4 linked regions of the Homo sapiens genome follow. The protein of the gene in region 3 purifies or fractionates together with the protein of the main gene of each other region. This does not show direct contact. Each region holds a gene or a part of one and is shown on either strand. Other genes may lie near its edges. The genes, in order: BTAF1, XPO7, FPR1 and EXOC3.

Region 1 (7,037 bases), on a different chromosome or scaffold from region 3:
TACAAGACAGGAGCCTCTCTCCTTTTCCTGCCTTCCATGGCATCTCATTTCAATCTGTTCTTCGCTTCAGTCATATTATTTACTGATTTGAAGATTTGAACATGAACATGGTAATCTTTCTAATTAATACCTTTAGTTGTTTCCTATTGCCTTAGGATAAAGTCCACATTCTCAAACAAACATATCTTACCAAGTCCTTTGTGATCTGGTTCCTGTGTCATCTTTTTAGATTCATCTTGTGTCAACTTCTCTGTACTTCCCCTTCACCTTCTTCTCTCTTCTATCCTCCACCCTCCCCAGAATTCATTTTGTTACCCCCTACTGTTTATCTTTGGAACACTTCTTAGCCCCATCTCAGGTATGGCTAGTTCTGACCTTAGTGTGTTTTTTTGTTTGATTTTTTTTTTTTTTGAGACAGAGTTTTGCTCTTGTTGCCCACGCTGGAGTGCAATGGTGCGTTCTTGACTCACCATAACCTCCACCTCCCGGGTTCAAACGATTCTCCTGCCTCAGCCTCCCGAGTAGCTGGGATTACAGGCATGCACCACCACACCCGGCTAATTTTGTATTTTTAGTAGAGATGGGGTTTCTCCATGTTGGTCAGGCTGGCCTCGAACTCCTGACTTCAGGCGATCCACCTGCCTCAATTTTTTGATCTAAGCTTATATATTACCTTGTTCAGGACATTTTCTCTGGTTTTACTTCATCTGAGCTATTTGCACCAATACATATTCCTATCAGTCATAATATTTATATTTTGTAATTGGTTAATTGTTCTCTTACTTGCTGGATTAACATAAACTCTGAGAGAAGGAAATGTGTCTTTGATTTTTCCATGCTCAGAATGCCTGGCTCCTAGTGGGTGTTCAGTACATTTAAAAAAAAAATGAATGAATGATTTTGCTTCTTGCTTTGGTACCTTTTGAGTTGCCATATGAGTTGCCTCATAAAGCAAAATAATGGTATTCAAAGATATAACAATTATTATTTAAATTATTCACAAGAAACACTGAAAGCCTGTAACATATACTAATTTGTTTTTTGCTGAGGTTGACTTTGTGGAAGCAAGTCAAGTAACTAGTGAATGACTAGCTGACTTTCCAGCATCCGCATCTTAGGGACAACATTGTTCTCTACTCCTACATTTGTAGGAGTATGATTTTACCGTAATTTGTGCATAGTAGACTATTTCCAGTGTTTTTCAGTGAGTACTTTTGAGTTTAACTGCCTTTTTTCTTTTTTTTTTTTTTTTTTTGCAGTAAGGAAAACTTTCACTATAGCTTTTTAATATTGGCCATTTTCTAATTTTAACAATCATCGGAATATTTTTTTCTTTTTAAAGCTATCTCCTATAGGAAGGCAATTAGAATAATTTTTGAAGTTTATAATATAGTAAATTCTGTGATAGCATGGCCATTTATAATGCAAAATTGATATGATGTATTTTATGTGGTCAAATTTTTTAGACCCTGCTTAATAGGCTTGGTTTTACTGTACTTTCAGTTGTAAGAATGTGGCAGATTATGAAATGCATGGCCAACTCTTGATCTGTAGCTGAATTACATCTTGCAAAAATAACTTTGTTACTCTCTAAAATTGTAAATACAATCATAGCATTTGAAGTTCTCTGTCAAATCCAGTGAAATATCACTGGAAAATGATATGACTCTTTTAAACCCTTAGTAAAAGACCCAAAATCCAAATGTAGGAGTAGAGAACAATGTTGTCCTTAAGATGCGGATGCCGGAAAGTCAGCTAGTCATTCACTAGCTACTTGACTTGCTTCCACAAAGTCAACCTCAGCAAAAAACAAATTAGTGTATGTTACAGGCTTTCAGTGTTTCTTGTGAATAATTTAAATAATAAGTGTTATATTTTTGAACACCATTATTTTGCTTTATGGGGCTTTTTCTCATTATCATGTGTTACTTAGTTGGGATTTTGCCACCAACGGTAAAAGCAACCTTTGCGATCGCAGCACTGCACTCCAGCCTGGGCAACAGAGCAAGAATCCATCCCCCCCCCCCCCGCCCCCCAAAAAAAGCAACCTGAGATGGATTTCTTTGGCATTTTTGTTGTTTGTTTGTTTGTTTGTTTTTGGAGGCAGAGTCTCACTCTGTCCTCCAAGCTGGAAAGCTGGAGTGCAGTGGCACAATCACGGCCTCAAGTGATCCTCCCACCTCAGCCTCCCCAGTTGCTAGGACCACAGATGCATACCACCATGCCTGGCTAATTTTTTTTGTATATTTTGTAGAAGTGGGGTTTCATCATGTTGCCCAGGCTGGTTGCAAACTCCTGGGCTCCAGTGATCCACGTGGCTTTGCCCCTAAAGTGCTGGGATTACTGGTGTGAGCCACTGCGCCTGGTTTAGGTTTATTCATTGGTGGGGAATCTGTAGCTGTGTTGGGAACCATGACTTAATACAATTTTTTAAACAGCTTGTTTTTGCTACCTTTGCCTGTTTATGCCACAATTAATGGAACTGATCATTGTATATTGGCTAGTTAATAGGAACATAGTTTTTCCTTAATCAGCTAGAGAAAGTTTCAGAAATATATAGTTTTCCCTCAGCGATCTGTGCTGTAAAGGTCATGTCTAAAATGTCTAGACAGTACTTATAATATGACTGTTTTAAAAGCCATACCTTAGATTTCTCACATATCTTTGCATTTGAAAATGTTACAGTGTTCAGAAAGGGTTCAGAAAAAACAAAAACACATCCTCTTGTGGAAGAAACAAATTGCTACATATAGCAGACCTTTGCTCAATTTTGTTAATTTTCTCTTTGCACTGTTGATACTTCAGAGCAACATTGTTTCAACAGGCCTATTCTGTCAAATAAAAGGAAGTTTCTTGATGTAGGGGACGTTCAGTGGGTCCTGGACAGGAAAATGTTAATGTAGAAAAAACTACCTTAATTACCAATAAAGGACAACACAGGTTTTCCAGGCCTATTCCTCCCTGTTAATTTATTTTTAATAATTTTTTTTTAATAGAGATGAGGTCTCTCTGTGTTGGCCAGGGTGGTCTTAAACTCTTGCCTCAAGCATTCCTCCCGCATTGGCCTCCCAAATGCTGGGATTACAAGCATGAGCCACCTCACCTGGCCCTTATTGTTAATTTCAATCCATTATAAGATGACAGAAGGAACTATTGTAAATTATAATTCATCAAATATCTCATACTTTAAAAATTTAGAGATAAACTAGAAAAAGTAGAAGAGGCATTAATCAAAGCTTTTCCATTTCAATCCCAATGGTAAATTCCTCCTTATTTCTTTGGCGTATTTCTCAAGGTACTAGTTTGAATTATTATTTTAAAAATTTTTTAATTGTGACACACATAAAAATAGACTGTTCTAACCATTTAAAAATACACTTTAAAATGTATTATGAATTTTACATATTAATACATAATATGTATTAATAAGAAGTTTTAAAACCACCCATACTGCTGCTAAAGAACCTAGATTAGTATGTACTATGTTTTGTCATTAAGATAAAGTCATGCAAGAGGCTATAGGTTGTTCGATCAGGGATGGAGGGTAGAAAAAAATGTCTTGAAGGAAATAGCATAGCTTGGTTGTACATTTTCACCATTCTTCATTTAACCAATATTTACTGAGTGCTTTCTATGTTATAGGTGCTAGAGGTATAGCAGAGAAAAAAACTGTACTCTCCATTCTCATGGAGTTTATGGTCCAGGGTAGAGTGGGGTAACTTATCTAGCAAGCACCTGCCCTTACACCTGGCTTTGGTATGGTTTCACACCTTCATATTGATTCTTAGTGTTCTGTGTGATATCTTTATGTTTAAAACAACATAACATTAACATAGTTTCAAATTACCCACAACATGACCTAGAAAGTATATGTTTAAAAACACTAGAGAATTTGTTGGAAGTTGTTTCTTTTGACCTTAATGATAATATGTGCACTGTACTAAGTTCCACGTATTAAGTACACACTGTACACTATACTAAGTAATGGTCATTATCTTTCCTTACTTCCTGAGTAACACAGAAAAGTAAACATTCAAATCATCTATATTTAAAATTTTACTGTACTTTTGCCACGTGTAAAAAATGTATAACTAAATGGCTACTCTTGACTGGTCATGCTTTTTTAGTTAAGGCCACAAAGCTGTCTTTTTGAGGTATTCTGTCAGTTGACCTTTCCTAATTTATCAGAGAGGTTAAATATATTTTGAAAATATCAGTGAGGCTTTTTGCCCCTCCCCTCCCGAGATGTTTTAGAGTGGAAATACAGTATGTATTTGTTTATTAACTATGACGTAGTAATCTAGGACATGTTTTATTGTTTAAAATGCATGACATTTCTTTCTGTTTATTTTTATGGCTTTACTGTTATGAATTAACATAATGCAAACATCTGGAGAGGAGAGGGGTTAGATTGCAACTGCTAGCATAACCTCTACTACTATGTACTCTTTCCTTTTTCTAGGCAGTCTTTAGAACAGTTGCCTGAAATCACAGGTTACATGAATCATATCTTGTTTAGCTAATTCTCGGAATTGACATCCAGATTGAAAATGGGCCAGATTTCTTATTCTCAATAAATTTATAACCAGTGGATATTACAAAATATAATTTTCTTATGTTTTACTTATCTTCTATAGTCTTTGGTACCTTCCATGCAACTTGACATCTGTTACCTGTGTCTCCTCCATCTGTCTGTCTATCCTTCAGAGAATGAAGAATGTTACTTTTTCCTGCTAGCTGTGTGCAACAGAAGTTTTAGCCAAAAGTAGTATGGGAGTAAGTACTGTGTTCCCTCAGTCAGCCCTCCTTTTAACTTTCCCTTCTCTTCTGACCATCTAGCTTCCTTCAGACCTCTCCCTCACCAAGGGCCCTGTCTACCCTCCAACATAATACTGACTCTGTCTCACGTTCTTTTCCTCTTCCCCACAAGTTCACTGTACCAGCCTTTTCCACCGTGGCCTGGCCCTGATGCTTACCCTGCTTGCCTCATAGCTGGCTATCCTGAGATAACAGGTCAGACTGCCCTCTTGTCAGATCTTTGTCTGCTCATCTCTTTGTTCTTCCTTTTATGTGGTGTCCAATCTGCTGTCCTGAAGAGAGGAATGGAGAACTACGAAAGTGGCTTTAAATCAAGAGAATCAAAGAAGCATTCTTGTGTCTCCATTCCTCTATTCAGGGAGGCAATTTTGGTTACCATCCAAAGTGGAAGAAGTAAGGATAAACAGGCTTGGAATGGATGAGAGAATGAGCTGATCTGCTACCCTCAGGGCATTTGGCTGGTGGGAGAGCAGAGGTGACCTGACATAGCATTGGGATAAAAGGATCTGCAAAAAGGAGAATCAAGAGGAACTGTGTGTCTGTGGGACAGTATCAGCAATTAGGTTAGAGAGGAGTCTAAGGTCTTTGGGCAGGAGTTCTAAGTGAAGCTGGGTAGCAGAGGACCAAAGGAAAAGTTTAAGAAGGATGGAAATTATTGAAGGAATACAGTGCCTATTGCATGGCATTTTTCAGCTTGCTATTTGGGACAAGCGTAACTGCCTCATTCAGAAGGCTGAAGTACTGCTGTGCTGATCTTTTCAGTTACTGAAACATTACATTACCAACTGATTTTTTATGTAAAACTGCTGTCACAGATTAAGGATGTTTCTCAAAGGAAGCAGGAAAAAAAAAGGTAATATAAAATATTTTTTCTTTCCTTAAAGTTGGTTCTTAAACTTGTCCCCAAGAAACTTGAACTTTTCCTTAAGTATAGTTTTAGTTACAGTAAATGTCAACTACATAACAAATATTTGAATACTGTGCAAAGTGTTGTGCGAGACAAAAAGAATGATTGAAGGAGATGAAGCCTAATGAGGAAAATTAGACCTCATGTGACAAATTAATGTGAGAGATGCCACAAAAAAATATAATAAATACTTAAGTAGCTGTTCAAGATGAGAATTCATGTGGATTTCAGAAAAGGAAGTAATCTCTGTTGCATAGTAGTTTGAAATGGTTTCAAGAAGGTGAAGAACTTCAGCTGAATCCTGTTGGATGGGAGCTAGCTGAACAGTTGAACAAAGAGAAAAATACTTTATTTGTTTGCTGTAGCACATTTTATTCTCTTGTTAGAGAAGCAAGCTCAGGCACACCCGAAGATCACCTCTAGTGGTGTATCTGGTTAAATTCCAGGTGATATACCCATATTCTCAGCTGTGCCTCCCACCAACAGTTCCCAGTCTCACACATGGGGCCATTATATCTGCACAGCTGCCTGCTGTTGCAGTGAGGCAGAGTACATACCCACTGCAACCCCAACCAGTGACCATTCTGGGGATCTGGCAGAAACTGGCCAGGAAACCACCCCCTTGAGGAGGGGTGAGCCACTGTAACCCTAGCTTGAAGGGGTGTGAGAGACATTCTGAGTGGAGGAAACAGTATAGGTAAAATTGTGGAAACCAAAAATACCCACATTTGGGAGATACTTTTTGTTTTGGATTACTTTCTGGTAGGTAAGTGTGAGCCATTGAAAGTTTTAAAGTAAGGTAGTGATTTATTCGGGGGCGTTTTAGGAAGTTAATCTGGCAACAGGATGACAAGGCAGTTGGGAGTGTGAAACTGGCACTCTCAGATGGCCTGGATTTGGGGAATATTTGTTCTGGATATAATTTAAACAAATAACAGTATACAGTTTCCTCAGGGAGAAACTGATGAGAGTTGAGCAGTCAAGGATTGAATATGAGTATTCTCCCGATATTCATATTAAGAGTATTAAGAATAGGAGAACTAAGGAAAGAAGAGTTTGGAGAACAGGGTAATATAATGTGCAACTTAGGAAGGAAAGTATTGTAAGAATGGGGTGCTTGCTGGTCGCAGCTGTCAAAGAAGAGTCAAGAAAAATTGACCTTGTAAAAAACTATTGGATTTGGAGCCTAAGAGTTCATTGGTGACCTTCAGGTGTGGTATTTTGGTGTAGAAAGATGGAACCTTGATTTATATGGATTAAATTGTGTATGATGAGGAAATAATATTTTAAACACTTGTTCAAGATGCTTGGC
Region 2 (7,037 bases), on a different chromosome or scaffold from region 3:
CCCACCTCAGGTGCTTACCAAGTGCAGTAAGTCCTTCAGAAATGGAAGAGAGAATATACATGATGACGTGAGGTTCCAGGCTTGCAATAAAGTTCATATGGTCCTGGGTCAGGACTTCCAGTAGTGAATAATAAGACTGGCTGAGCTTGGGGTAATCCTGTGGGAGAGGAAGAGGAAGAAAATCAGCTTAGGCACTATGCACTCCAGCATGCAGGGAGACGATCTTAAATAGCTTAGCTCCTTTTAGGTGGGAAAACAGAAGACTTAGTTAGAGCAAAAGGAGCTAGCTTACATAGTTTCTCAAGAGCAGTGTTCAATCTTGGTCTCAGGTGAAAAAGGCTGAATGTGATGAGGAACAAGATTGTGGCAATGCAGCGTAAGGCTTACCAAGAGATCACTGTGAGGAATAGAGAGGAGCAGCTTGATGAAGGTCTGCAGAGCATTGTCCAGGGCATCGTCTCCATAGAGACGAAAGACTCCGAAATTGACGTAACTCCCACTGAGAGCAGCCTTCAGCATGGAGAAGCAGATGGAGATGCCCTTGAGCTTCAGAGCATAGACCTGATCCTTTGGGACCTCTCCTAGTGTCAGGATGCGATTGCCTGAGTAGACATGTCATATATGTTTATTCAACCACATTAGAAGCGCTCGTTTAGATCAGCCTTCCTACTCCAAAGGCATACAAATTCCAGTAGGCCCCTGGTGACAGGTGGCACTCTAATGCACATGTATTAGCATACAATACGAATGCTGTCCTGGCTCCTGCCAGGACTGGCCAGAGACCCACATGCTGCTTACAGTGTGGTGACTGAGCTGGAATTAACTTCTAGAGGCATGATTATCTGAAGCACTTACCATACATTGTTATCATCTTGCTGGTTTCTCGGAAGAGTAAGATGCCATTGGGGGAAGAGACATCAAACTGGAGTCGCTGGGACCTGAGCAGAGAGCACAGGAGGAGAAAAAGTCAGAGGTGTTTTCTTGGAAGACTGGGGTACTTGAGGCTCTCATCTGAGTACCTTGGGTGATCCTGCATTTACATTAAGGTAAGCAATTGCCTATCCTAATATGAGAATAACCAAGTTATAGATATTTAACCATGAAGTAGCTTCTATATTGAAGACCAACATGCTAGATTCAGATTCTGCTGCTCAAATTAAAAACATTTATAAGAAAAAAAAAGCAGCAGTAGATAAAATTACTATTTGAAAATTCTCAATTTTATTTGATTAAAGTATACTTTCTTTTTTTTGAGATGGAGTCTTACTCTGTCGCCCAGGCTAGAGTGCGGTGGCGCAATTTCGGCTCACTGCAACCTCTGCCTCTCGGGTTCACACCATTCTCCTGCTTCAGCCTCCCAAGTAGCTGGGACTACAGGTGCCCGCCACCACGCCCAGCTAATTTTTTGTATTTTTAGTGGAGATGGGATTTCACCATGTTAGCCAGGATGGTCTCGATCTCCTGACCTCGTGATCCGCCCGCCTCAGCCTCCCAAAGTGCTGGGATTACAGGCGTGAGCCACCGTGCCCGGCCTTGATTAAAGTATACTTTCTACCCGTCGCCTCTTGATACTAATGCAGAGCCCTTCAGCCATTAGTTGGCATGGACCTTTATGGCTTCAGTGGCAACTGAGGGAGAGGGGCCAAAGCATTGTTACCATTTTATATGAAGAAAAGATGCATAGGGACTTGGAATGGTCCAAAAGAAGCCAGACAGAGAAGGCCATTTGTAACCATCTTGGTTTTAAGTTCCTGACTCTTTTGTCTGCTCCACATTTTGATGAGCTTTATTAGATTCAAGTTGGTAAGACCTCAAAAGCCCAGGAGTCCTTCCTCCTTCCTCCCCCCCACCACACTGAATCCATCAACATCTAACTCTAAAATAAACCCCAAATCCACCTTTCCCTTACATTCTCTCTGCTTCTACTCTTACCTGCCTTTAGTCCCATTCTTCACATGGTAGCCTTTAAAAAACTTAAATGAGATCATTTTAATCCTTTGCTGAAAACACTCTAGCGGCTTCCCACAGCAATGAGAATAAATGCCCACTCCTCACTACTGCTGTGCGAAGGCACTAGATGATCTGGCTCTGCTCACTGGTCTGACCTGCTCCCACAGCCTCCCCCCACCAACCAGGCTCCTGCCACAAGTCCCAGCAAGCCTGTCCTATCTCAGGACTCGTGCAGATGTTTTCTGTTTAGAAGACTCCTTATCTTTGCAGGGCTACCAGAATCTTTCTTGTCATTTAGATCCTAGTTAATATTACCTTCTCTGAGAGGTCTTCCCTGACCCTCCTGTCCTTCAATTCCCCTCTATTTTACTGCCTTGTTTTATTTTGTTTCATGGCACTTAATCACTGGAAAGATCTTCCATACTTGTTTTTATTGTGTGTCTTCCCCACCATTTGTAACATCAAAGAGGGTAGAGATTTTGTCTGGCATAGTGGCTAGGAAAGTTTGGCAAAGAGTAAGTGCTCTCAAGTATCTATTTTATAAATGAGTAACTCTTGAATATAAGTCTCCTGGGAGGTTATAGCCTCTTTAAATATTACCCACTCCATAAGGTTGTTTTAAAACTTATTAATTCTGCTAGGCCTGGTGGCTCACGCCTGCAATCCCAACACTCTGGGAGGCTGAAGTGGGCGGATCACCTCAAGTCGGGAGTTCAAGACCAGCATGACCAACACGGAGAAACCCCGTCTCTACTAAAAATAGAAAATTAGCCGGGCGTGGTGGCGCATGTCTGTAATCCCAGCTATGTGGGAGGCTGAGGCAGGAGAATCGCTTGAACCCAGGAGGCGTTAAGTTGCAGTGAGCCAAGACTGCGCCACTGTACTTCAGCCTGGCGACAAGAGAGAAACTCCGGATCAAACATAACTAACTAAATAAATAAATAAAATAAAAATAAAGAAAAAAAACCTTACTAATTCTCTCAGGACCGCCATGAGAGACCAATGCCCATACCTGAAATTCTAGGAAAGCTAAGGTGCTAGACTTTTCTTTTTCACTGTCCTTAAATTGTTTTGAAAATCTTGCTCACTTTTTAAAAGTAAATTTTTATTGATCCTGCCACAACCTCTCTAATAAATACCTTTCTTAAGAAAGGGTATTCTAATATCTATCATATCCTTCTCAATGTCTCTAACCATGAAATGTGATGGACAAGGCACCATTACCAGATGTTAATTTCTTATCTGTGGGCAGGAAATCAGAATCTTGGTTGCCAAATTTACTTCTCCTAAGAGTAGACATCTGGAGATTCTTTTTATTTTACTTTTTTGAGACAGGGTCTTGCTCTGTCACCCAGGCTGGAGTGTAATGGCATAATCTTGGCTCACTGCAACCTCTGCCTCCCAGGCTAAAGCAATCTTCCTACCTCAGCCTCCTGAGTAGCTGGGACTACAGTTGTGTGCCACCATGCCCAGCTAATTTTTTGTAGAGGTGGGTTTCACCATGTTGCCCAGGCTGATCTAGAACTACTGCATTCACGCAATCTGCCCACTTCGGCCTCCCAAGAAGCTAGGATTACAGGCATGAGCCACCATGCCCCACTGGAGACTCTTTTTAAAAGTGACTTATTAGATGGGCGCAGTGGCTCACGCCTGTAATCCCAGCACTTTGGGAGGCCGAGGCACGCGGATCACGAGGTCAGGAGATCGAGACCATCCTGGCTAACATGGTGAAACCCTGTCTCTACTAAAAATACAAAAAATCGGCCGGGTGTGGTGGCGGGTGCCTGTAGTCCCAGCTACTCCGGAGGCTGAGGCAGGGGAATGGCGTGAACCCAGGGGGATGGAGCTTGCAGTGAGCCGAGACTGTGCCACTGCACTCCAGCCTGGGAGACAGCAAGACACCGCCTCAAAAAAAACAAGACAAACAAACCAAAAAAAGTGACTTATTTCCTGCAGTTGACTATGGTTTTGTGTAGTTAGGAATACTATTCTTTCACACAAACAAAAACACAAAAACTTTTCGAATTTTAAAATGCAGTAGTGAATCTTATTATTTCCCACAATCTGCCCAAAGCACTAGATACAGCAAATTCTCTCAGATAACAGGGCAGATGTGCCCTTGCAAGCTCTGCCTCCTGCTTACCTATTATGAACCAATTCAGCCATCAACTTGAGTACAGGTGTAGTACAGGCTGGATCATGGTACCAGAGCTCAATTGCCCGTTGGAGAATTGGCATATAGGATGGATATCTGTAAATGAGAAGCTAAGGAAAGATTTCTGATTCCAGAAAGGTACAGAATTTAAAATAGTTTTTCAGCACTAGCCAAGCAAAAACTTGTCAAACTACAGTTCTTTAAGTTCCTGTCTCTTGCTTGCTAATCTTGGAGTCTTTCTAACCAGAAGATACTAAAGTGATTTTGTGTTCTTTAACCTGTGAAAGGCATCTCATAATACATTTTAGTTTACATAGGGCCTTTCTTCTGAAGAGCATGATGTATTTCATACTGTTATTTGTCCTTTCATCACTTCTATGGTATTATATGGGATCAGCTCATTTCCTTTACATAACTATTAAAGAGGCACCTGGATTTGAAATAATCTTCACAAGGGTATGAAGTCAGTAAAGTTAGACTTCCTAATTTGTAAAAGCTGTTTATTATTATTATTATTATTATTTATTTTTTTTTGAGATGGAGTCTCGCTCTGTCGCCCAGGCTGGAGTGCAGTGGCGCGATCTCGGCTCACTGCAAGCTCCGCCTCCTGGGTTCATGCCATTCTCCTGCCTTAGCCTCCCAAGTATCTGGGACTACAAGCGCCCGCCACCACGCCTGGCTAATTTTTTGTATTTTTTAGTACAGACGGGGTTTCACCGTGTTAGCCAGGATGGTCTCGATCTCCTGACCTCGTGATCCGCCCACCTCGGCCTCCCTAAGTGCTGGGATTACAGGCGTGAGCCACCGTGCCTGGCCTTTTTATTTTTTTCAGCAGACTGAAACATCTCTCTAAATATAGCAAAACCAACAGTTCTACAGTGGTATATGGTTCCACAGGCATTTATATTTGAGATCCAAAAGAGAAACTGGGAGACTACTTCATTCATGTTCTAATCTCAGACAACCTTATGTCTGTCATAAGGTGGCTTCCAGGACACATGCAGGCCTTCTGGCTAACTCTTCATCTTCTCTGCCTCACTACCCTCCCTTCCCCCTACACCGTCTCTGGACCCTATCACCCAATCACACTCCAGTTAAGGCAGGCTGTAGTGTGCTCCTAGTTTGAGTTAGGATACATCCATTCAAAGAGCATCATGAAGCTGGTCTTGGCATTGAAAGCGAAAGCGATCCCTCTCAGGTCTCTTACTAGGCCAACTAGAGTTCGCTGTAGTAGAAGGCAAAAATGTGTTAAAATAGAAGAAAAGACAAAACTGTAACAATCTGATGAGGATTCCACACATGTATCATCAAATTCTTTCTCTCACAGTTCAACATATACTCCTTCTCAAATATTCGGATTCAATATCTTCTATGCTAGAATGGCATATTTTCATTCTAGCAGTGGAAGTTTGTTTTGGAAGTTTGAAGTTTGTTAGCTTTGGAAGTTTGTTATGCCAAGAAAATTAGCTTTGGAAGTTTGTTTTGCCAAGAAAATACGTTCCTGGTTCGTAGCAAAAATAGAGGCTGATAAGGTTTTAAGACATTGAAGTAATACATCACATGTAAAAAGTGAAAAAGCTTTGAGTCCACCCAGGGAGGAAAGGAGGGGAGGGAGGGGGAGAGAGGGTGGGGGGCGGAGAGAGAGACAGAGAGAGAGAGAGAGAGAGAGAGACACGGCAAAGAAACCAACTCAAAAAGCCAGAAAAAAGCAAAAAAGAAAAACAGAAGTCCCAAAGAAGAAGAGGTAGAAGAGCCATATATACCCTAAAGGAAGTCAGATGCAGGCCCTGCCAGGAGGAAGACAAAGGGGAGTCTACACAGCACCTCTCTCTTTGGGTGGGCCATCTAGATAAGACTATGTTTAATCAGTACTCTCCATTTGCAGAAAAAGAGACTGAGGCTTAAAGAGGCCAAAAAACTTCCCCCAGTCATGTTGCTAGGTAGCAGGAGGGTCCAGATCAGGACTCATACATAATACCAAGACTCCAAATCCAATACTCACTCTCTCAATAAAACTTTTACTTGGGACATGAACAGCAATAAAACTACTATAAAAATCATAGTTTGGGGGTTGTCTCCAAACGTGGAGACAGAACAACAACAACAACAAAATGTGCTCAAGAAGGTTGTACATTTGGGGATCTTGACACGTTTGGCAAAAACGACATCACTTCTGTTAACAGTCTGCTTGTAAGCAAACAGTTCTCTCCTAAGCTGATACCACAAGCTCAGTTTTCCAGTCTAAGACTTGGTCAGTCTCTTAAAAGACTTTACATGGGACATGACAAAGAAGTGGGTGACAGCTGTAGTCCATTACCAAGGTTGTTCTTTTGGTTAATTTTACTTGCTTTACATGAAACTAATACCATATAATGGGAAAAAGGGCTGATATTCACTGATATCCCTAAATCCTTGATATTGGTTGATACTCTAGCCTAAAGTTGGTAATATGTTCCACAATAACCCAAGCTTTGAATGGTACCTATCTCAGACTCTAAAATACAAGTATAATTAGGGGAGAGAGGGTTGCATTAAGTGTTGTTGCTTTCTGTCTACCCTGCTGATTTGTAGATGGAAAAAGAAAAGGCTAAAGATGAAAAAGGAGAGCTTTAGAATGCTAGGTAAAGCCTGGCATTTTTTTCTGGCAATACCCTGGCTAGCTGGTAGTTCTACCATTCAGCCTTGGTGCCCTGAGGAATACTGTAAAAAGTCCTACCAATAGTAACATCCTGGTGTCTTCTGATTTGGACACAGATCTATACAGGTCAAGAGAACAGTATGTATGAAGTAAAAAGATGAAGAAAGCAACAATCAAGAAATGACAATTCTAAGAGCTAGAAAACAAGAACTTAAAATTCCATATATGTGGAAATTCACTGGGCATCGTGTCTCGTGCCTATAATCCTAGCCACGTGGGAAGCTGGGGCAGGAG
Region 3 (3,643 bases):
AGTCTTAGTCCACGTTTGTGTGACACTAGGTCACTGAAGCTGTCGCCCACTGATTTTCTGATATCTTATGCTCTTATTTTTCCTTTATTAAATTGATGGTAAAATACAAAAAGTTAACCATTTTAGGCTGGGCACAGTGGCTCACGCCTATAATCTCAGCACTTTGGGACGCCGAGGCGGGCAGATCACCTGAGGTCAAGGAGTTTGAGACCAGGCTGGCCAACATGGTGAAACCCCATCTCTACAAAAATATAAAAATTAGCTGGGCATGGTGGCAAGTGCCTGTAATTCCAGCTACTCAGGAGGCTGAGGCAGGAGAATCACTTAAACGCGGGAGGCGGAGGTTGCAGTGAGCCAAGATCGCACCACTGCACTCCAGCCTGGGTGACAGAACGAGACTGCGTCTCAAACAACAATAAAAAAGTTACCCATTTAAATGTACAATTCAATGGCATTAAGTACATCTACAGTGTGTTGCAACCATAACCATTATCTAGTTCCAGAACTTTTTAATCACACCAAGCAAAAACTGCATATTCATTAAGCAACAATTCCCCACTTCCTAGTTTCCCCAGTCCCTGGCAATCACTAATCTGCATTCGGTCTCTGTGAGTTTGGCTACTCTGGATATTTCATACAAGTGGAATCATACAAAATGTGACTTGTGGTGTCTTCCTTCCTTCTCTCCTTCCTTCCTCCTTCTTTCCTTCCTTTCTTTTTTCTTTCATTTTAGAGACAGGGTCTTGCTTTGTTGCCCAGGCTGGAGTGCAGTGGCTCAATCATAGTACACTATTAACCTTGAATTCCTGGGCTCAAGTGAGCCTCCCATCTCACCCTTCTGAGTAGCTAGGACTACAGGTGTGTGCCACCACATCCAGCTAATTTAATTTAATTTTGTTGTTGTTGTTGTTAGAGATGAGGATCTTGCTATGTGGCTCAGGCTGATCATGAACTCCTGAGCTCAAGCAACCCTCCTACCTCGGCTTCCCAAAGCTCTGAGATGACAGGCGTGAACCACCACATCCAGCCCTCTTTTGTTTAGAGTAATGTTTTCAAGGTTCAGCCACGTTGTAGCATATATCAGTGCTTCATTGTTTTTTATGGCAGAATAATATTCCATTGGGTGGATAAACCACATTTTGTTTATCCATTCATCTGTTGATGGACATCTGGGTTGTTTCTACCTTTTGGCTATAGGGAGGAGTGTCTCTATGAACATTTTTGTTTGAATACATGTTTTCTCTATACATCTTTGGCCCCATATTCTCCTCTTGGAGGTCAAGGACCCTATCTTCCTTAGCCATTTAATCTCCCTGGTAGGGGCTTGCATGTTAGCAATTATGAGGATGTGTCATAAGATGCAATCTTGGCCACACGTGGTAGCTCACGTCTGTAATCCCAGCACTTTGGGAGGCTGAGGTGGGTGGATCACCTGGGGTCAGCAGTTCAAGACCAGCCTGGCCAACATGGCAAAACCCCACCTCTACTAAATATACGAAAATTAGCCAGGAGTGGGGTGGTGCATACCTGTAGTCTCAGCTACTCAGGACGCTGAGGCAGGGGAATTGCTTGAACCCGGGAGGTGGAGGTTGCAGTGAGAGATCACGCCACTGCACTCCAGCCTGGGTGACAGAGCAATATTCCATCTCAAAAAAAAAAAAAAAGATGTAATCTTGCCCAACAGGTACAATAAAAGATTGCCAATGTATAGATGTGGGCATGTGTAAGGGACAGTGGTGAGGATGTTCCGGCTGTTGTGGGAGCTCTAGGGGAAGGTGAGAAAGCTAGGAGTGGGAAAACTGGCAGGGGCAGAAATGAGGGGGTGGGGAAATGGTACGGAGGTTCATAACTGAGGAATGACCACGACTGCACTATTTCAGGAGCAGACAAGATGGAGACAAATTCCTCTCTCCCCACGAACATCTCTGGAGGGACACCTGCTGTATCTGCTGGCTATCTCTTCCTGGATATCATCACTTATCTGGTATTTGCAGTCACCTTTGTCCTCGGGGTCCTGGGCAACGGGCTTGTGATCTGGGTGGCTGGATTCCGGATGACACACACAGTCACCACCATCAGTTACCTGAACCTGGCCGTGGCTGACTTCTGTTTCACCTCCACTTTGCCATTCTTCATGGTCAGGAAGGCCATGGGAGGACATTGGCCTTTCGGCTGGTTCCTGTGCAAATTCGTCTTTACCATAGTGGACATCAACTTGTTCGGAAGTGTCTTCCTGATCGCCCTCATTGCTCTGGACCGCTGTGTTTGCGTCCTGCATCCAGTCTGGACCCAGAACCACCGCACCGTGAGCCTGGCCAAGAAGGTGATCATTGGGCCCTGGGTGATGGCTCTGCTCCTCACATTGCCAGTTATCATTCGTGTGACTACAGTACCTGGTAAAACGGGGACAGTAGCCTGCACTTTTAACTTTTCGCCCTGGACCAACGACCCTAAAGAGAGGATAAATGTGGCCGTTGCCATGTTGACGGTGAGAGGCATCATCCGGTTCATCATTGGCTTCAGCGCACCCATGTCCATCGTTGCTGTCAGTTATGGGCTTATTGCCACCAAGATCCACAAGCAAGGCTTGATTAAGTCCAGTCGTCCCTTACGGGTCCTCTCCTTTGTCGCAGCAGCCTTTTTTCTCTGCTGGTCCCCATATCAGGTGGTGGCCCTTATAGCCACAGTCAGAATCCGTGAGTTATTGCAAGGCATGTACAAAGAAATTGGTATTGCAGTGGATGTGACAAGTGCCCTGGCCTTCTTCAACAGCTGCCTCAACCCCATGCTCTATGTCTTCATGGGCCAGGACTTCCGGGAGAGGCTGATCCACGCCCTTCCCGCCAGTCTGGAGAGGGCCCTGACCGAGGACTCAACCCAAACCAGTGACACAGCTACCAATTCTACTTTACCTTCTGCAGAGGTGGAGTTACAGGCAAAGTGAGGAGGGAGCTGGGGGACACTTTCGAGCTCCCAGCTCCAGCTTCGTCTCACCTTGAGTTAGGCTGAGCCACAGGCATTTCCTGCTTATTTTAGGATTACCCACTCATCAGAAAAAAAAAAAAAAGCCTTTGTGTCCCCTGATTTGGGGAGAATAAACAGATATGAGTTTATTATTGACTTCTTTTTTGATTTTGGACCTCAGCCTTGGGTGGTCAGGGTGGGAAATGATAGGAAGAAGCTGTCATCTGCATCCTAGTTTGCCTGAAATGAACCCAAATAATACCCATTATTATTAGTCCTGAATTATGAGTAGTGAATGATACCCATCATTCTGGCATCATGATGAGTAGTGTCCACTTCCATTCTGAAAAGTGCCCTGCTGTGAAAAATAAATTATATAGTCATCCTAGGTAAATGAAGGAGGAGGGAGAAGTGTGAAAGAGTATGGCTTAAATCAGACAAGATATACAAGAAGATACTTTATATAGGGCAGGAGCGGTGGCTCATGCCTGTAATCCCAGCACTTTGGGAGGCCGAGGCAGGCGGATCACCAGGGGTCAGGAATTCGAGAACAGCCTGGCCAACATGGTGAAACCCTGTCTCTACTAAAAATACAAAAATTAGCTGGGCGTAGTGGCAGGCTCCCGTAATCCCAGCTACTCAGGAGACCGAGGCAGGAGAATCGCTTGAACCTGGAAGG
Region 4 (7,037 bases), on a different chromosome or scaffold from region 3:
CAGTGCACAGAGAACACCCCTAGCATGAACAGTGTGAGGATTCCACCAGCTTTTTCACCATGAAGGAGACAGACCGGGAGGCCGTTGCGACAGCAGTGCAAAGGGTTGCTGGGATGCTCCAGCGCCCGGACCAGCTGGACAAGGTGGAGCAGTATCGCAGGAGAGAAGCGCGGAAGAAGGCCTCCGTGGAGGCCAGATTGAAGGTGAGGCCACCTGCCCCACTCCCAGGATCTGTCTTGGGCTTCAGGTTCTTGCTTGACATCACCATGATGATTTTGCTAAACTAGCCTTTATGGTAATGTGCAAGGAGGCAGAGCTGGACTTTCTTGAGCAGTTACTTTCAGCAGTGTATTACCACTCAGTAGCTTTGCTTAGAAGACAGTGGGAATGGTGAAAACACCAAAGGAACAAGCTTTTAAACACCCTGAGGCCGGGTGCGGTGACTCATGCCTGTAATCCCAGCACCTCGGGGAGGCCGAGGCAGGCGGATCACCTGAGGTCAGGAGTTCAAGACCAGCCTGGTCAACATGGTGAAACCCTGTCTCTATGAAAATACAAAAATTAGCCAGGCATGATGGTTGACGCCTGTAATCCCAGCTACTTGGGAGGCTGAGGCAAGAGAATCGCTTGAACCCAGGAGGCAGAGGTTGCGGTGAGCCGAGATGGTGCCATTGCATTCCAGCCTGGGCAACAGAGTGAGACTCTGTCTCAAAAAGAAAAAAAAAACACAGAAACAAAAACAACACCCTGAAAGTGTCTATTAAGTTTTTAAACAATACTGGAGGAAGGAGAAGTAGTCTTATTTAAAGCTCTTCTACAGAGCACCACTAGAGGGCATTTTGTTCAGATTGTTTTAACTCACATTTGACAGAGAGCGGATCTGAAGCTCAGGTGCCGATTCTGTCCTGTGGGTCAGCCGTCCTGGGGCCAAGTGTGGTGCTGGCTGAACAGCAGGAACTCCCCCACCCCAAGCCAGTGAAGTCCTGACCGTTCTCTCTGCCTAGACAAGACCTTTTAGGAACCTAGGATGCCTGGGAGAGCATGGGTGACATCCTTCTGAAGGTACCGTAGCAGGCCACGGCCCAGGGCAGACCCGTGGTAGTGTCCAGGATCACCAGGTGTGAGGCTAGATGAGGAGTGTCCTGACCTTTTCTCATCAAGGCTTTAAAATGCATCATTGTTCTGTTCCCAGGCAGCAATGAAGAAAAAGGTACACTGTGAATCAATTAAATCCTTGTTGATTTTATTTTCTTTTCTGGGTATTGACTGTTTCCTGCTACTCAGTGGCTCTTTCCTGAACTTGACCCTCCTGGGGAAGATTTGTTCTTCAGGAGGCAGCGCATGGCTATCATTGGCTCTGCTCACCCGTGTGGCGTCTCTCTTTAGGCCGCCATCCAGTCACAGTTGGACGGGGTGCGCACAGGCCTCAGCCAGCTCCACAACGCCCTGAATGACGTCAAAGACATCCAGCAGTCGCTGGCAGACGTCAGCAAGGACTGGAGGCAGAGCATCAACACCATTGAGAGCCTCAAGGACGTCAAAGACGCCGTGGTGCAGCACAGCCAGCTCGCCGCAGCCGTGGAGAACCTCAAGAACATCTTCTCAGGTACCAGCCAGACGCCGAGGCACTTGCCCCCACTCACGCTGTCTTTGCATGACTCACTGAGTGCTCTGTGTGCAGTGTGCTTTGCAGCCCGCACTGTAGACCTGTAGACGGTAAGTGTGATTCTTGTCTGCTCAGCGTCTTTTTTTGAACGTGGATGGAAGTGATCAGCTGAGCATGTAAAGGCTAGGAGAAGGCTTGTAGTTCAGTGTCAGGACAGAGGCCCAGAAGCGGGCTGCCCAGCAAATGCAGTGTGGAGGGATTCCCTGGCTGAGTGTCGTTCCCTTGCTTGCGATGTGGCTGTTAGACTCTGTGAGTGCAGAAGAATGAAGACGCCGTGGCCCATGCTTAAAAGGAGCTGCAGGAGAAGCCACCCTGTGCATGGGACAGAGCAAGCAGATCCCAGAGCAGAAGGGTTGAGGCGAGCAGCAGCTCCCAGGCAGGAGGAGAAGCGTGTGTGCACAGGCCAGGGCAGAGGCGGGGCTGAGCGCCGTGGGGGAGTGACCCTTTCAGTCTTCTCCCTGAATGCCTCAGTTAGAAGGATGCCAAGGGCCCTGTAACCTGTCCCTGAACGGTGCCAGCTGGCCCTGGGTGGTGGCTCCCAGCATTTGTGTTCACAGTCTCCTCCTGCTTGCTGTGACAGGAGCTGCTTCCACAGCCTCATCCCTCCCCTTGGTCCCCGCTCTGTGTCAAGGTCAGCAGCATCCTTCCAGTCCCCAACTCAGAAGCCTTGGCAGGGTCTGATTCCTTCCCTTTCTTTGTTCCTGTCTCTGGCCTCTTGGCAAGTTCTTCCTGTTCCTCTACCAGACGTCTCTGCCCTGATGTCTGTATGACACTTCCCCATCCCCAGCCGTCACGTGCCCCAGCTCACCCTTCACAGTGGCTGTGCTGCATCATCTGTGACGCTGCTCGGCTCCTGAGGCCACGTGTGAATTGGCGCGGTTCTCCCCAGCTGCCCACAGCGCACCTTGGTAATCCGTGTCCCGTCCACCCTGTCCTCTCTGCCCTCCTCTCGTGCTTGCGGCTGCAGCATTGCCGAGCACCTTGTCCCGTTGCTTTGTGTGTGCCCTTCTTCCAGGGCATGATCCGTAGGGTCACATGTGTGGCTGCAGTCCGTGTCTCTTTGTGCATGCCCAACACGAACGCCACTGTGCTGCCAACTCAGAAAGCAGCTCTTCTTGGTGACTGTGGGCCGCCTGGAACAGGAATAAAGTCCTCTCGACGGAGTCTCCTTGGTGATGCTCAGCTGGCAGCTTTCTAGTTAATTTCCTCTTATTTCGTATTGGCTGGCTACATTTCCTTCCGGTCTTTTAAACTAATGCCTGATGACCAAAAAGGTGCATTACTGGAATTAGTTTATCCACAGCAGTTGAAAATAATTTCCTTTCCTTGGTGAACAAATGAGCCTGCGTGGTATGCATGTTTTTTGTTACGGATAAATTTTCATTGAGAAGATTGGTTTGGTTGCCTTCAGACTTGTCTCATTGCCTATAACTCAGCAATGCTGTGTACACAGCTCCCCTCCCCCATTTTTTCTTCTTCTAAAATGCATATGTACAGTTTGCCGTCTTAACCATTTTTAAGTGTACAGTTGGGGACTATTAAGAACATTCATATTGTTGTGCAACCATTGCCACATCCGTCTTCAGAACTCTTTTCATCTTGCAGACATGAAAATCTGTACCCATTAAACACTGACTTCGCACCCTCTGCCCCAGCTCCTGGTCACCACCATTCTGCCTTCTGTCTCTGTGAATTGGATGACTCTGAAGACCTCATAGAAGTGGCATCACACATTATCTGTCTTTCTGTGACATGCTTATTTCACTCAGCATGATGTCCTCAGGGGTCTTCTATGCTGTGGTATTGTAGAATTTCCTTCACTTTTAAGGCTGAATAATATTCCATTGTATGGATGGACCACATTTTGCTTATCCGTTTGTCTGTTGGTGGACATTTGAATTGCTTCCACGTTTTAGCTATTGTGAATAATGCTGTAGTGAACATGGGTGTACAGATGTTTTACTTTTATTTCTTTCTGGTATATACACACAAGTGTAATTGCTGGACCATGTGGTAATTTATGTTTAAATCTTTGAGCAGCTGCCAGACTGTTTCCTCCGGTGGCTGCAGCATTTTCCACCATGAGTGTGTGAGGTTTCTGATTCGTCTGCATTTTCATTCTTCTCTTAGGTTTTTAAAAATATCCCTTATGGCTGGGTGCGGTGGCTCACGCCCGTCATCCCAGCACTTTGGAAGGCTGAGGCAGGCGGATCACCTGAGGTCAGGAGTTTGAGACCAGCCCGGCCAACATGGTGAAACCCCGTCTCTACTAAAAATATAAAAATTAGCCGGGCGTGGTGGCAGGCGCCTGTAATCCCAGCTACTCAGGAGGCTGAGGCAGGAGAATCACTTGAACCCAGGAGGCAGAGGTCACAGTGAGCCGAGATCGCACCACTGCACTCCAGCCAGGGGGACAAGAGCGAGACTTCATCTGAAAAACAAAACAAAACAAAACAAAAGTCCCTTATGTTTCCTTTTTTGCCCCATTAATTGTTTAAGAGTATGTTGTTTAATTTCCACAAATTGGTGAATTTTACAGTTTTCCTTCTGATACTGATTTCTAATGTCATCTGTTGAGTTTGGAGAAGATACTTTGTATGATATTTATCTTTTAAAAACCTGAGTCTTAATTTGAGGCCTAATCCATGGTCTTTCCTGAAGACTGTCCCATGTGCACGTGAGAATAGTGTGTGTTCTGTTGTTGGGTGTTCTTTCTGTGTCTGTTCAGTCTGGTTGGTTGGTTGCATTGTTCAAGTCCTCTCTTTCCTTGTTTAGCTTCTGTCTGCTTGTTCTGTCCATTATTGAGAGAGAGATATTGAAGCCTCCGACTATTACAGAACTGAATGTTTTTCCCTTCAGTTCTATCCATTTTTGCTTCATGTATTTTGACGGTCTGTTAGTAAATGCAGAAATATTTATAATTGTTACATCTTCTTGCTGAACCTTCTATTAATACATATGGCCTTCTTTGTGACTAGTTTTTTTTTTTTTAATTTAAAGTATATTTCATATTTATTAGTATAACCACTCCTGTTCTCTTTTGGTTATTATTTATATGGAATATCTTTTTCCACCCTTTTACTTTCAACCTATTTGTGTCTTGGGCTCTAAGGTCAGTCTCTGGTGAACACATAGAGTTGAATCATGTTTTATTTTTTAAATCTATTTTGTCTACCTCTTTTGATTGAAGATTTTAATTAATTTTGCCTACCTCTTTTGATGGAAGAGCTTACATTTAAGTGATTACTGATAAGAAGGGACTTCTGTCATTTTGCTGTTTGTTTTCTATATGCGGTATAACATTTTTGTCTCTTATTTCTGCATTTTTTTTGTGCTTTTGATTATTTTGGTAGTAAACATTTTAATTCCCTTGTTTCTTTTGCGTATATTCTATAGCTGTTTTCTTTGTGCCTACCATAAAGATTACACTTAACATCTAACATTATCTCGCTTCAGTTTGAATTTATATCAACTTAACTTCAATAACACACAAAAACCGTCCCTATATGGCTTCATCTCCACTCCCTTTGGGTTGTTCATTTCACAAAATTACATCTTTATATATCATGTGTCCAAAATCATAGACTAATAATTGTTTTTTAATGCATTCATTTTTAAAAATTAGGTAGAAAACAATGTGGAGTTAGAATCCAAAGTTACAGTATTAGTAGCTTTTAGACTATTTTTTAATGTATTAGTTTCTTTTTTATTTGTCCCTTTTAACCAGAACAAATATTAGTCTCTTAAGTCATGTACGAAACAGAGTGATGAGTTAAAAACTGAAGTGTTAATGATACTAGATTTTACGATTGTCCATGAATTTACCTTTTTTGAGGCCTTTGCTTCTTCACGTGGCTTCCAGTTGCTCTCTAGCATTCTTTCTTCTCAACCAGTGGGACTCTATTTAAGCATTTCTTGCAGGGCAGATCTTGTGGTAACAAGCTTTTCAGCTTTTGTTTATCTGGGGATGTCTTAATATCGCTCTCACTTTTGAATGACCATTTTGCTAGATTTAAGGTTCTTGGTTGACAGTATTTTTCTTTTAGCACTTTGAATATGTCATCCCACTGCCTCTGGCCTCCAAAGTTTCTGGTGAGAAATCTGATCTGCTCATAATCTTATTTTGGAGCCCTTGTTTCTGACAAGTTGCTGCTTTCAGAATTCTTTCAAAAGTTTGATTAAGTTGTATCTTAGTGTGGACCTCTGAGTTCCTCTTGCTTGGAGGTCATTGAGCTTCTTGGATCTTCATATTCATGTCTTTCATCAAATGTGGGGAGTTTTCACCTATTATTTCTTCAAATAATGTCTTGCCCATTTCTCTCTTCTCCTTCTAAAAGTCCCACTAAGCATATGTTGGCCTGCTTGATGATGTCCACAAGGTCCCTGAGGCTCTGTTCACTTTTCTTCAATCTTTTTTCTTTCTGTTCCGGATACTTGATATTTCCCATTGTCCTGTCTTCACATTCACTGATTCTTTCTTGCGCCTGTGCAGATCTGCCTTTGAATCCCTTTAGTGAATTTTTCATTTCATTTATTGTACTTTTCAGCTTCATATTTTCTGTTTGGTTTCCTTTTGGATTTTCTGTCTCATTATTGGTATTTCCATTTTGCTCATACATGTCTTTCTTCACATCTTTAAGTTCCTTAGGCATCTTTAAATCGTTGTTTTAAAGTCTTTCTCTAGTAGATCTGCCATCAGATCTTTTACAGGAACAGTTTCTTATGTTTTCCTTTGAATGGGCCATACTTTCTTCTTTCTTTGGGTGCCTTGTGATGTTTTTGTTGTTGAAAAATGGACACTTGAATCGAATAATGTGATAACTCTGGAAATCAGATCCCCTTCCCAGGTTGATGATTCTTGTTTTTGGTTGTTGTAGGCTCTCTGTGCCAAGGCACAGCCTGAGGTGTGAACTTCAAGGTCGTGTCAAGTCTTTTCTGAGCCTATGCCTTTGCCTGGGCATGCATTGGCCACTTCCGAATTTTTCCTATAAATGCAGTTACTTTTGAATGTCTTCATTCATAAATATCTGGCTTTCAAGAAGGGGAACAGATGAAGGGGGTGGTGAAGACATTGGCCCTTTAAATTCCCTGGAGCTCTGTGGGGGTGAGGAGGGACCTGTGAACAGGGGAAGATGCAACAGTGGCCACTTACCTCTTCGCACCTCTGTGGTCAGAAGCAGCAGTCAGTGATCTGAGTACAGATCTCCGGTGTGGAGGACAGGGTTCTTTTTGCCCAGCCAGGCTGCAGGCTGTGTGCAGGCAGCTTTAGGAACACATCAGCACATGCACAGCTGCCTGCGGGGTGGGAGGTGGGGCCTCGGTAGCCACTGCCCAGCTGAGAGCTGCAAATGACCACAGTTAACCACAGTTT

The links.
Region 1: the proteins of FPR1 (region 3) and BTAF1 purify together in Homo sapiens (co-immunoprecipitation; 2 studies listed by BioGRID and IntAct, with this or other methods). This does not show direct contact.
Region 2: the proteins of FPR1 (region 3) and XPO7 purify together in Homo sapiens (co-immunoprecipitation; 2 studies listed by BioGRID and IntAct, with this or other methods). This does not show direct contact.
Region 4: the proteins of FPR1 (region 3) and EXOC3 purify together in Homo sapiens (co-immunoprecipitation; 2 studies listed by BioGRID and IntAct, with this or other methods). This does not show direct contact.

The regions. Positions count from the first base shown.
Region 1 is NC_000010.11:91,926,745-91,933,781, forward strand, and holds part of BTAF1 (TATA-binding protein-associated factor 172), read left to right. Parts: intron 1-4,637; exon of another isoform or gene 4,638-4,776; intron 4,777-7,037. UniProt on the Homo sapiens protein: Regulates transcription in association with TATA binding protein (TBP). Removes TBP from the TATA box in an ATP-dependent manner.
Region 2 is NC_000008.11:21,992,656-21,999,692, reverse strand, and holds part of XPO7 (exportin-7), read right to left. Parts: intron 5,331-7,037; coding exon 5,242-5,330; intron 4,202-5,241; coding exon 4,094-4,201; intron 939-4,093; coding exon 856-938; intron 603-855; coding exon 388-602; intron 158-387; coding exon 19-157; intron 1-18.
Region 3 is NC_000019.10:51,745,243-51,748,885, reverse strand, and holds the end of FPR1 (fMet-Leu-Phe receptor), read left to right. Parts: intron 1-1,880; 5' UTR 1,881-1,891; coding exon 1,892-2,944; 3' UTR 2,945-3,113; downstream 3,114-3,643. UniProt on the Homo sapiens protein: High affinity receptor for N-formyl-methionyl peptides (fMLP), which are powerful neutrophil chemotactic factors. Binding of fMLP to the receptor stimulates intracellular calcium mobilization and superoxide anion release.
Region 4 is NC_000005.10:446,147-453,183, forward strand, and holds part of EXOC3 (exocyst complex component 3), read left to right. Parts: intron 1-3; 5' UTR 4-59; coding exon 60-203; intron 204-674; exon of another isoform or gene 675-1,062; intron 1,063-1,192; exon of another isoform or gene 1,193-1,246; intron 1,247-1,386; coding exon 1,387-1,606; intron 1,607-7,037. UniProt on the Homo sapiens protein: Component of the exocyst complex involved in the docking of exocytic vesicles with fusion sites on the plasma membrane.